Regions from separate parts of the Homo sapiens genome. Here region 1 is linked to region 2. The links come from fine-mapping of genetic effects on gene expression. A gene starts in region 2. The other region holds a variant in brackets. All regions are shown on one strand. Distances are from middle to middle.

What was found. PIP is the estimated chance that this variant, and not a neighbour inherited with it, causes the effect.
Region 1: its variant is fine-mapped to the expression of ERICH1 in cerebellum (GTEx, PIP above 0.99).

The regions. Positions count from the first base shown.
Region 1 is chr8:682,369-687,892 of GRCh38, forward strand. The region is part of intron 3 of ERICH1 (glutamate rich 1); the gene reads right to left. Among named protein-coding and RNA genes, the nearest start is that of ERICH1, 46 kb to the right of the region's middle. RefSeq lists an enhancer at 5,311-5,524. The variant T/C (reference allele first, on the strand shown) is at 3,045.
Region 2 is chr8:728,440-733,439 of GRCh38, forward strand. It overlaps ERICH1 (glutamate rich 1), which reads right to left and starts at 2,785. Exons shown (of 6, transcript NM_207332.3): 1 at 2,701-2,785. The coding sequence starts at 2,722. RefSeq lists enhancers at 1-207, 268-772.

The DNA.
Region 1 (5,524 bases), 46 kb before region 2:
AACAGCTCTGAGGCCCTGAGCATGTGCTCTATGCTCTGGCGTCCTGGTGGCTCTGACACGGGCCCTTTTACCCTGTTGCACTGTGACTTCTCCACTCATGCTGCACCCTCCATATGACTTTTCAGAACCACTCCAGAGACTCCAGAATGTCCACATCTCCAGGGCATGTGGGAGGTCTACGCCCTTCACACCCAGCAGCTGAAAGCGATGTGAGGGAACCAGAGGCCGGGCTATTTATAATTGGAGCAGTGCGCTTTGAAAAGCTGCCATCCCCAAAACACACCTTTCAGACACACTAACTTTAAAAGGAGTCACAATGTGTCAAAACTCTCTCTGCTACTATTTGACACCTACATTCTGATGAACTGCTGGAGTAGAAATAGTTAGATAACAAAAATAACCAGTCTTCAGATTCTAATTCTCACAGCTGCACCTTCTTACGTGAAAGTAGGCTAGGCATTTTAAAGGGAATATGAACTTTATTCTAGATTCAAAGCTAGGCTACAAATTGCATCTGATAATTACCCTCAAGCTACCAATGTCCTCTAGGTGCTAAATAAAAAGTAGTAAACTTCTTATCAAGTTGATCTAAACCCTACCTGTGAAAGCAGATCTTTAAAATGTAGTAACATGAAAAGCTTCCAGTTGCTGAGTGTGTTGTTTGCCTAAAATCCAGGAAAATATTTTGTAATAACACCATAGATTGTACTCATTTAGCCAAGGAAACACTGGAGTCTCACAGACGCGGACACTCCGGCCTGCTGAGAAGCATGTCCTGCCCCGGGCAGGGTGGTTTGAGACCCCTGGAGATTCAGGGATGGACAAGCGGTGGCTGTGGCTGGCGTGGACCATGGCAGTTGCTTGCCATGTAGAAGACCTGCCACAGAGAGAGGAATTCATGTTCGGTTTGGCCTTTGAGGATAAAATTCAGACCCAGCAGACAGGGCTTCAGGGAATAAAGGTAGCTCACATGGCTCCTGGGACAGAGACTTCTCCCCAGGGCCTCAGCCACCAAGGACTGCCTGTGAGACGGGGAGCACCCCTCCAGGGTCAGCCGTGAGGGTCAGCAGGTGCCTGAACACCCTCGGAATAAAGAGGACTTGAAGAGTTCCCTGTCACTTTAAAAAAATGGATTCTCGCTCTCTCTCTCTTAATAGATCTGAATCTGGAGCAGTAATTTCCAAAGACAACAAGGGAGGCACAGCCTTGGAGCTGGAAATGTGGCCTCCTCCCCCGGCTCCATGCCAGCTGCAGGACATCATTTAGCTTTTGATTCCAAATGGTACTGAAAGACCATACGGGACCTCAACGTTATAAAAAACTGAGTTGGGCTAAAACACAACAATCTAGATGCTAAAGTTTTGTGATTTTGAATTTGGATGCCGGGCGGTGATCAGGAACCACCAAAGGAAAGGTTGGTTTTCCTCTGGATGTGATCTGCCGCTAAGCTAAACGTCTGCCTTCTGAATACTTACTAAACATGTGGCCAAATACACATTATTTCATAATCTTCAACAAGATTAGTTCCTGAATTCTTCCCTGAGACAGACTTTGATACCGAATTAATGTCCAAATTTTCTAGATTAGTTTTGAATAGGCTTGAATTATACATACTCAAGAAATTGTTCTTATGTTTCATGTTTACATGTTTGAGTCTTAAAAACTGACTTAGTGGAAAAGTAGTTAGTGTCTCACCATAAAACAGCTTGATAGATACTTTTAAAAACAATTCACATTTAGTCATTTTCTATAACTTTCCATAAAATGGCCAACAAAATGATAAAAATTTTATAAGCAATAAAAGTCTTAAAATAGGGCAATAAAGTGCTAAATTCCCTTAAATAAAACTGTCAAAACCATGAGGCAAGTCATTAAGTTAAAATTAGATGCAGGACAATTTTTTTAATTTAAAGAATAGGAAAGTTAAGAAAGTAATTAAAACAGTACAAATGAAGAAAAGCCATTGAATTATTCAATAAATATAAAGCCACAGTAAATAAAAAATTTAAATAGTAAATTTAAATAGAGTAAATGTATCCACAAAAAAATGTTAAAATGAGGTTATATTTGTGTGAGGCTCTGAAACTGTGAAGTGTTTTGTAAATATTCTTCATTGACTTGGACTCGTGACTTTTTGAGTTGAAAACTTAACTAAAACGCTCATTTACTTCACGGGTTTTCAGTGGTACCACAGAGAAGAGGGGGGCTCTGAAGCCTGCAGCTTAATTCCAATTTCTGCCAAGACATCTGTTTACCTCCTGGGGATATCGGGGGAACCAGCCCCCAATATTTCAACATAGGTTCTTTTCTATTTTCCCTAAGCATCGGCCAGTCTGAGAAATAAAGGGAAAGAGTACAAAAGAGAGAAATTTTAAAGCTGGGTGTCCGGGGGAGACATCACATGTCAGCAGGTTCCGTGATGCCCCCTGAGCCCCAAAACCAGCAAGTTTTTATTAGCGATTTTCAAAGGGGAGGGAGTGTACAAATACGGTATGGGTCACAGAGATCACATGCTTCACGGGCAATAAAATATCACAAGGCAAATGAGCAGGGCAAGGTCACAAGGCCAGGGCGAAACTAGAATTGCTGATGAAGTTTCATGTTCCACTGTGCATACATTGTCATTGATAACAGGGTTCAAGAGCAGAGAACCGGTCTGACTAGAATTCACCAGGCTGGAATCTCCTAATCCTAGCAAGCCTGGGGGCGCTGCAGGAGACCAGGGCGTGTTTCATCCCTATCTACAACTGCATAAGGCAGACACCCCCAGAGCGGCCATTTTAGAGATCCCCCTCCGTCCCCCCAGGAATGCATTCTTTTTCCAGGGCTCTTAATTATTAATATTCCTTACTGGGGAAATAATTCAGCGATATTTCTCTTACCCGTTTTCGGCAATAAGAGAAATACGGCTGTGTCCTGCCCGGCTCCCAGGCAGTCAGACCTAATGGTAATCTCCCTTGTTCCCTGAACATCGCTGTTATCCTGTTCTTTTGTCAAGATGCCCAGATTTCATATTGTTCAAACACACATGCTTTACGAACAAT[T/C]TGTGCAGTTAACGCAACCATCACAGGGTCCTGAGGCAACATACATTCTCAGTTTAAGAAGATGATGGGATTAAGAGATTAAAGACATGCATAGGAAATTATAAGAGTATTGATTGGGGAAGTGATACATGTCCATGAAATCTTCACAATTTATGTTCAGAGATTGCAATAAAGACAGGCATAAGAAATTATAAAAGTATTAATTTGGAGAACTAACAAATGTCCATGAAATCTTCACAATTTATGTTCTCTGTCACGCCTTCAGCCGGTCCCTCCGTTCGGGGTCCCTGACTTCCTGCAATAGGGGCATATTTTAGCATCTTTTTCCGAGGCCTTGTCTGGCATTTCAAGAGTCTTTCTTCATTATTACGGTAGGGACTTTCAGCCATCTTTCTATTCCTGAGAGTCTCTTCAGCTTTGGGCAATTCATGTATTATTTTTTCAATAACTGACTGGGCACAGTGGCTCAGGCCTGTAATTCCAGCAATTTGGGAGGCCAAGGCAAGCAGATCACTTGACCCCAGCGGTTCGAGACCAGCCTGGCCAACATGGTGAAACCCCGTCTCTACTAAAAAATACCAAAAAAAAAAAAAAAAAAATAGCTTGGTGTAGTGGTGCGCACCTGTGGTCCCAGCTTCTCGGGAGGCTGAGGCAGGAGGGCGGCTTAAACCCAGAAGGCAGAGGGTGCAGTGAGATTGCGCCACTGCACTCCAGCTGGGATGACAGAGCGAGACTCCATCTCAAAATCATCATCATCATCATCATCTTCTACCTTTTTTTCTCAGATACTCTTTAACTTCAATTAAACAAATATTAATATCTAGTAAAATATTCATAAATCACTCTATTTTTGTAACACATTCACTTCAAGCTAAAAGCAGTGTAAGGATACACCACTATCTAGACATTTCTCTAATCCAAATTGCTTAGGAATATGTGCCAACAATAGCTTGGAAATCGAGTAACTATGTTTTACGAAAATAAATGGCAATAAGAACAAATGCATTCTTTTCTTTTGTTTCTTCCTAGGCAAGCTAAAAAAAAAAAAAAAAACAAAAACAAAAACCATGTAGATCCCACAGGTGAGTTATTTCAAAGTTCATGCCTGACACCCGGCACCCACAGTCTTTAATCAAACAGCCAATGCTATTCTCATTGGCTTCATTAAGTCCGGGAAGAATCCAGGAGATGCCAAAGACACAAAAAACATGACCATACACAGTGCCAACCTTTTAGAAACCATCACAGCCTTTTCTGATGGCCCAGGATGCATGAGACCTCCAAGTCCAGGCTCTCATCCCACTTGTGGGTAGGTAAAGGCAGCTGAGCAACAGGTCTCTCGCAGGACACTCAGAGAGAGAGAGAGAGAGCGCGCACAGCAGGGCGCCCCTCCCCTCCTCTAGGACCAGGCGAGCTTGGACACAGCTGAATGTGTGAACTCTCATATCAATAAATCAGCGTGACAAGAATGAAACACTGCTAGCTCTGACTCTGTCAGGCCCTTGAGAGGGTGAGATGCGAGGAATGCGGAGCGGGGGGCAGCCCCATCACCCACCCACGAGCCACTCTGGAAAGGCTAAGAGAAGTCACGCTAGGACTCCTTCAGGAAAGGCAAAAGGCAGAGAGAGCCACGATTCTGTCAAAACAGAGCATGTACGGATGTTTAACTCAAACGGAATCCACATTATAACTGTGCATTTACTGCATGCTTCCAGAAGCCGTGAAGTTAGTAACTATTTCAACTGGTGCTTGCTGCTAGAATCACCATCACAACAGCTCTCCACAGAAATGACTTATGTTCATGACTCTGTAGCTGGATCTGAGCACAGAATCTGAGTCAATGCCTCACACCGCTTGTGATTAGGAACCGGGGAAACACTAACACTTGCCTTACGGGCTGTTTTTATACATAATCATTCAACGCAGTTCACCAAATATTGACTTAAGACTTAATTCCACCAGGCGCCAGGATAAGGCTCCTCGGGGAATAAAAAGCCGGCAACGCTCACGTTTGCACAAGCTTTGCAATAAGCCCAGACGGTCTGGCACAACAAACGCTAAGCGTGTGGGTCCAGACTGTCACCCCATGGGCAGAGAAGGGGCCCGCTAACACCACGCGCTGAGGGGGCGCAGGGGAGAGGCGGGAACCCGTGGAGGGAGGCAGCGGCGCAGGGAGCAGGACTGGAGGGAGGCGGGTCCCTGTGGAGCGCAGCAGGAGGAAGGCAGCGCGCGGGGAGCGCCCGGGCGGCCCAGGCGAGGCAGGACGCAGCGCTGACCGGACCCAGGGCTGAAGTCGGCAGAACTGCGGCCAGTGCCCGCCGCGCCCGGGGGAGCGCGCCAGGCCCGCGGGGCCCTAGCCGAGGCCGTAGTAGGTGGAATACGGGGCAGCCACGGAGGAATCGGGGGCGAGGCGCGGAGAGGCCCCGGATGCAGCGGTCCCGCCCCGAGAACGGAGCGCGCGGAACCGGCGCAGGCCTCCG
Region 2 (5,000 bases):
CGCAGCAGGCCCCTTCCTCGAGGAGCACGCAGTCCCTGGGAGATCTGTGACACTGGGGGCCTCCCCAGTCCACTGCAACCCCACTCCAGGCTCCCCTGACCGCTGGCTACCCTATATGCCAGAAACAGCCCGACCTGAGCTAGCACTTAATTACATGCCAGATATTCACCCAATCTCCCTGGGTAGAATGGAGGCCATAGTGCCCTTCCCCTTCCTGGGACCCTCTTCAATTAGGAGAGCAGTTCATGGTCGGAGCTGCACAGCACCTCTCAGAGGCTTGCAAAGTAGGCCCAAGAAATATCCTCCGGTGCTATACTTACACTAGCATAACATAGAGCACATTTGAGGAATTTTTACTCAAGTGGTGCTGCTTCAAAGGCAATACATTCTTCTCATTAATCCTGCAGAGTTTTGCTACACATTGTTACAGGGAAACTGTCACATTAGCAGATTATATTGCCTAGCAGAAACAATCTACTTCCAGGAAAAAAAAAATGCTTAGAATCACTGTTTAGCCTGACTGCCAACCTTTCCACCTCATGTTTCTTGGTCTGTGCCAGGGCCAGGCAGGGGAGAGTATGGGCCCCTGGATGTGTCCTCTGTCAGCAAGCACTGCCCTAAACCCAAGCACAGCCTCAAAGCACAGCAGAGCTTCACTTAGCTCGGGGAGGGAGGGATACCGTGCCTGATTCGCTGCCGCAGCCAGGGCCTGAGGGGCTCTGCCACACTCAGCAGATGCTCCGCCAACATCCGGCGGTGAATAAACGACGCCAAGTCAGTTCTGTGTGGGGTCTGCTCCAGGAGAGGCACACCTGCGTCTTGTGGCACCTGCCTCCTCTCCCACCATCAACAACAGCGCCCAACCCCCACCTGCAACCACCCCATGACCCTGAGCTGGACCTTGGGAAAACAGACATCCCTGCAAGGGGACACGCCAAGCTCCATCCCCTCCTCCTGCGGCACCTTCCCCTAACTTCACTCGTTGCAAGCCACGCAGAAGGGAAATGCTCTGAAGAAGACACACACTCCAGTTTCCTGCTCCATCAGGTCACAAATGCTGGGAAGTTTTATTCCAGCTAAATCCTCCCTTCAGTGCCTCTCAGAGCCTAAGTGCCACTCAGCCGATGGGCTCTTCAGGTGATCTTGAGGAAGACACACAGAAAACTAATATTTTCTTTCCCACCTACATTTTATAAACTTTTGGGATTTATTAATCTATCCTTCCAACCACAATGTCCTTAAACAACGTAAATTTACTTGACCATTCTGTCACATATCCAATAGGAAAAAAAGGCTGTTTCGAGGGAAGGTGATTAGTGAATGACTAAAACAATTAACAGCTTTCATTCACTTTAATTTGGTGAATGGAGAAAGGTTTTTTTTTTAAGTTGATTAGGTACATTACAGATGCTATAATAATTTCTTGCATAGAGAAGAGCATTTATTCCAGGCTTAGAAGAGTGCAAACATTTGAAGGAATGTAAGAGAAGAGTGTGTTGTGGTTTAAAACAAGGAGAAAACCTGCAGTAGCAAGAAGCCCCCCACCAAGAAGGCAGGCACAGCTTTGCAGGCAGCTGACCGTCAGGTCTGCTCCTAAGAACCTCGACACTGAATTCACAGCCTGCCAGCCCTGCTTCCAGGAGAGGGTCATGAACAAGGTATTTCTGGTGCTCATTAACATACGTGAATGTCCATTTTAGAGCCTAGCATGTGACTGCTTAAAAACTCTTAGGTCATTTTTAACCTGTGAGCTGATCAGGTGACAATTCCCTGGTCCTGAAGGAGAGGGGGAAGCCCACGTGCAGTGTGTCCCTGAAAAGGAAGACTTGAGACCATATTTTTCTCCACATTCTGCCTCACTGAGAAATTTTTTCTTTTTAAGCAATTGTTTTATAACTATAGTTTGCCATTATCTTTTCATTTCAAAGGGAAAAACATGATTATCAGTTTTAAACATAGAGAAGGAAAAAAATTCATCAGCGCCTGAATTAATCCAAGTAACACGAGATTCATGTCAAAAACCGCCACTCTTTTCATTATGATGATGATTACACGGTGAGGGTAATGAGCTGGGGTTTGCAGGAAGCAGGAGCACGCTTTATTTTCTAACACTTCCGTTCTAAGGCACGGCCAGGTTAACCAATTCTATTTATTCTCCTCCTGTCTTTGGTACTAATGCTATCACAGAATTTAATAAGCACTAGGATGCGCCCCACACCTTAGGTCCACTGAAGGTAAACACCATGACCTCCGTCTCTCAGATGAGGACACAGTGGCTCTGGGAGGTTCTGCTGTACTTTTCGGTGAGGCTGCCGGAGCCGGCTGCAGCCCCACCCCGGAGCCCTGGGCTAGGACCCCTCTGAAGAGCTGAGCGGCTCCTACTCACTCACCAACAGGGGCTCTGCTAAGAACACGAATCCCTGGCTGGGCTCGCCTCCGCCCAGGACCCCAGACACCAGGTGGGGCCTGGCAGGGCCGGCCCGACCAGCAGCCATGCAAGCAACAACACGGGCGAGGGGTGGGCCGCGGTCCGGGGTAAGAGCGGGGGATGGGTAGGGACTGGGGTGGAGGTGGGGAGTCGGTCTGGGTTTGGGGTGGGGCCTGGAAAGGGGCCGGGGTCGGGGTCCCGAGTCAACACCGCGGTCTGAGCCGAGAGCCGGGTCTGGGGTCTGGGCAGGCCTCCGCACCGCACCCACCTACCGTGCTTCCTGTGCGCCGCCATGCGGGACCCTGCCGCGGACCTCAGACCACGGCGCGCGGTCCTGAGCTGAGCGCCGTGCCTTCCGGGTTCCGCCCTCCTGGGTCCGCCCACAACAGCAGGAATGCCCAATCCGAATACGGGACCCCGCCACGGGCGGTCAGTCAACTACATCACGGCCGTAGATTGGCTGATATCGAGTCTGTAGGCGTGTCGCGAGGCTCCAGACCCGCCTCTGGGAGCCCCGCTGTGGAGCATGCGCGGAGGGAGGGCTGCGGGGGCGGCGGTGCGGGCTCTTGGGGACCTGAGGACGCTGTGAGAGCGCTGGCGGCGACTGCTCTACGCGGTGGCGGAACTCTGGGGGCGAACGCTAGGGAGGGCGTTGTGGAGAAGAGGGGAACGGAGGGCCCCAGAGGAGAGGCGCCCACCCCCAACCCCACGGGTGCACCTGCGGATCCCCAGTCCCCGCTTCGCCCCCAGGCACCCGCCGGACACAGGGAATGGCCAGGGCAGTGCCCCCGGCCCCAAGGCACCTGCAGGATACAGGGAGTGGCTAGGGCGGTGTCCCCGGTCCCCGGGCACCTGCGAGACACGGATAGTGGCCCTGGCTGTGACCCCAGCCCCCAGGCACCTGGAGGATATAGGGAGTGGCCAGGGCGGTGACCCCTAGCCCCTAGGCACCTGCTGGATACAAGGAGTGGGCAGGGCGGTGTCCCCGGCCCCCAGGCACCTGCAGGATACAAGGAATGGCCAGGGCGGTGTCCCTGGCCCCCAGGCACCTACAGGATACAGGGAATGGCCAGCCGGTCCCCAGACACCTGCTGGACACATGAGTGGCCAGGGCGGTGACCCCAACCCCCAGGCACCTGCTGGACACAGGGCATGGCCAGGGCGGTGTCCCTGGCCCCCAGGCACCTGTGGGACACAGGGAGTGGTCAGGGCAGCGGCCCCCACGTCACCCCGGCTTGCCAGACCCCTTCTTGTCTCCCTGTCCAGCTCCAAGGGCCTCTGCCCTCCCGCTCCACCCCCTCAGGACCCTCCTCCTTGAATTCGTTTCTTCCAAAACATTTCCCAGGTGTGTGCCAGGCGCTGTTCCTCATGTGGGCTGTCTCAGGAGAGGAACCCACGGAGATGGGTGTTTTGGAGGAAAATGAAGCTGGTAGGGCCTAACTGTAGAGTGATGGGCGCGGGCTTGAGGTAGGTGAGGGAGCAAGACTGGGGGTGCCCAGGGAAAGAGAGCCCACAGGAGGGAAACGATGTCCCAGGAGAACGGCTGCCCTGTTTGAGTTTGGGGACCAGAAGCAAGGGCAGGATAAGGGGAGCTCAGATCAGGAGGAAAGGAGACCCAGACCCAGGCAGGGTCTGCAGGGAGCCTGATAACTTTGCATGTTCCAAGAAGCAGGGTGGAAAGTTGTTACACGATGTAGAGCAAAGGGGTGAAATGATCTGATGCATTTTCTTTCTTTTTGGGGTAGACAGGGTCTCACTCTGGCCCAGGCTGGAGTGCAGTGGTGCCATCACAGCTCACTACAGCCTCCAGCTCCTGGCCTCCAGCAATCCTCCCACCTCAGCCTCCCAATGTGTGGGATTACATGCATGAGCCACTGTGCATGGCCTGATGTACATTTTAAAGAAGTCATTTAGCGTTGTGATGACTAGAGTTGCATGGAAGGAAGTGTGGAGATTTCATCTGCTGCAATAAGAGATGCTGACAGCTCACATCCAAGTGGTGGCACTGGAGGTTCTGGGTGGGGGGGCTAGTTGGATTGTGGACATGTTTTAAGGTAAAGCCAAAGAGATTTTCCGATTGATCAAACTGGGCTGTGACAGAAAAGGAGAAATGTAGAATGGCTGTAAATTTTTCGTTTGGAAACTGGAAGGCTGGAGTTGCACTGAGGAGGTGGAGAGCCTTCTGGGGATCTTCGTTTGGTGGTAGTGTGCAGTTTTAGACAGGTCAAGTTTGAGGTGCTCATAAGATGAGTAAGCATATGAGGTCATGAAGGGAGCAGGCGTGAACTTTAGAAAGTGGTCCAAGGAATAAGCCCCGAGGGGCTCTGGCCTTTGAGAGGTGGGGAGATGAGGGGGCCCAAGCTGTGGTACATGAAGGGTGGCCAGGGAGAAAAGGAAGGTCCTGAAGCCAAGTCAAAGAACGAACCACTGGTCTCCAATGATGTGGATGAAGCAAGAGGAGGACCAGTGATGTACGGTTGCATTTGTAAAGGGCAGAGGCCATCAGGGATCTTGGTTACAGGAATTTTGTTGAAGTGGTAGAAGCAGAAACTTGATGGAAATTCATAGAATT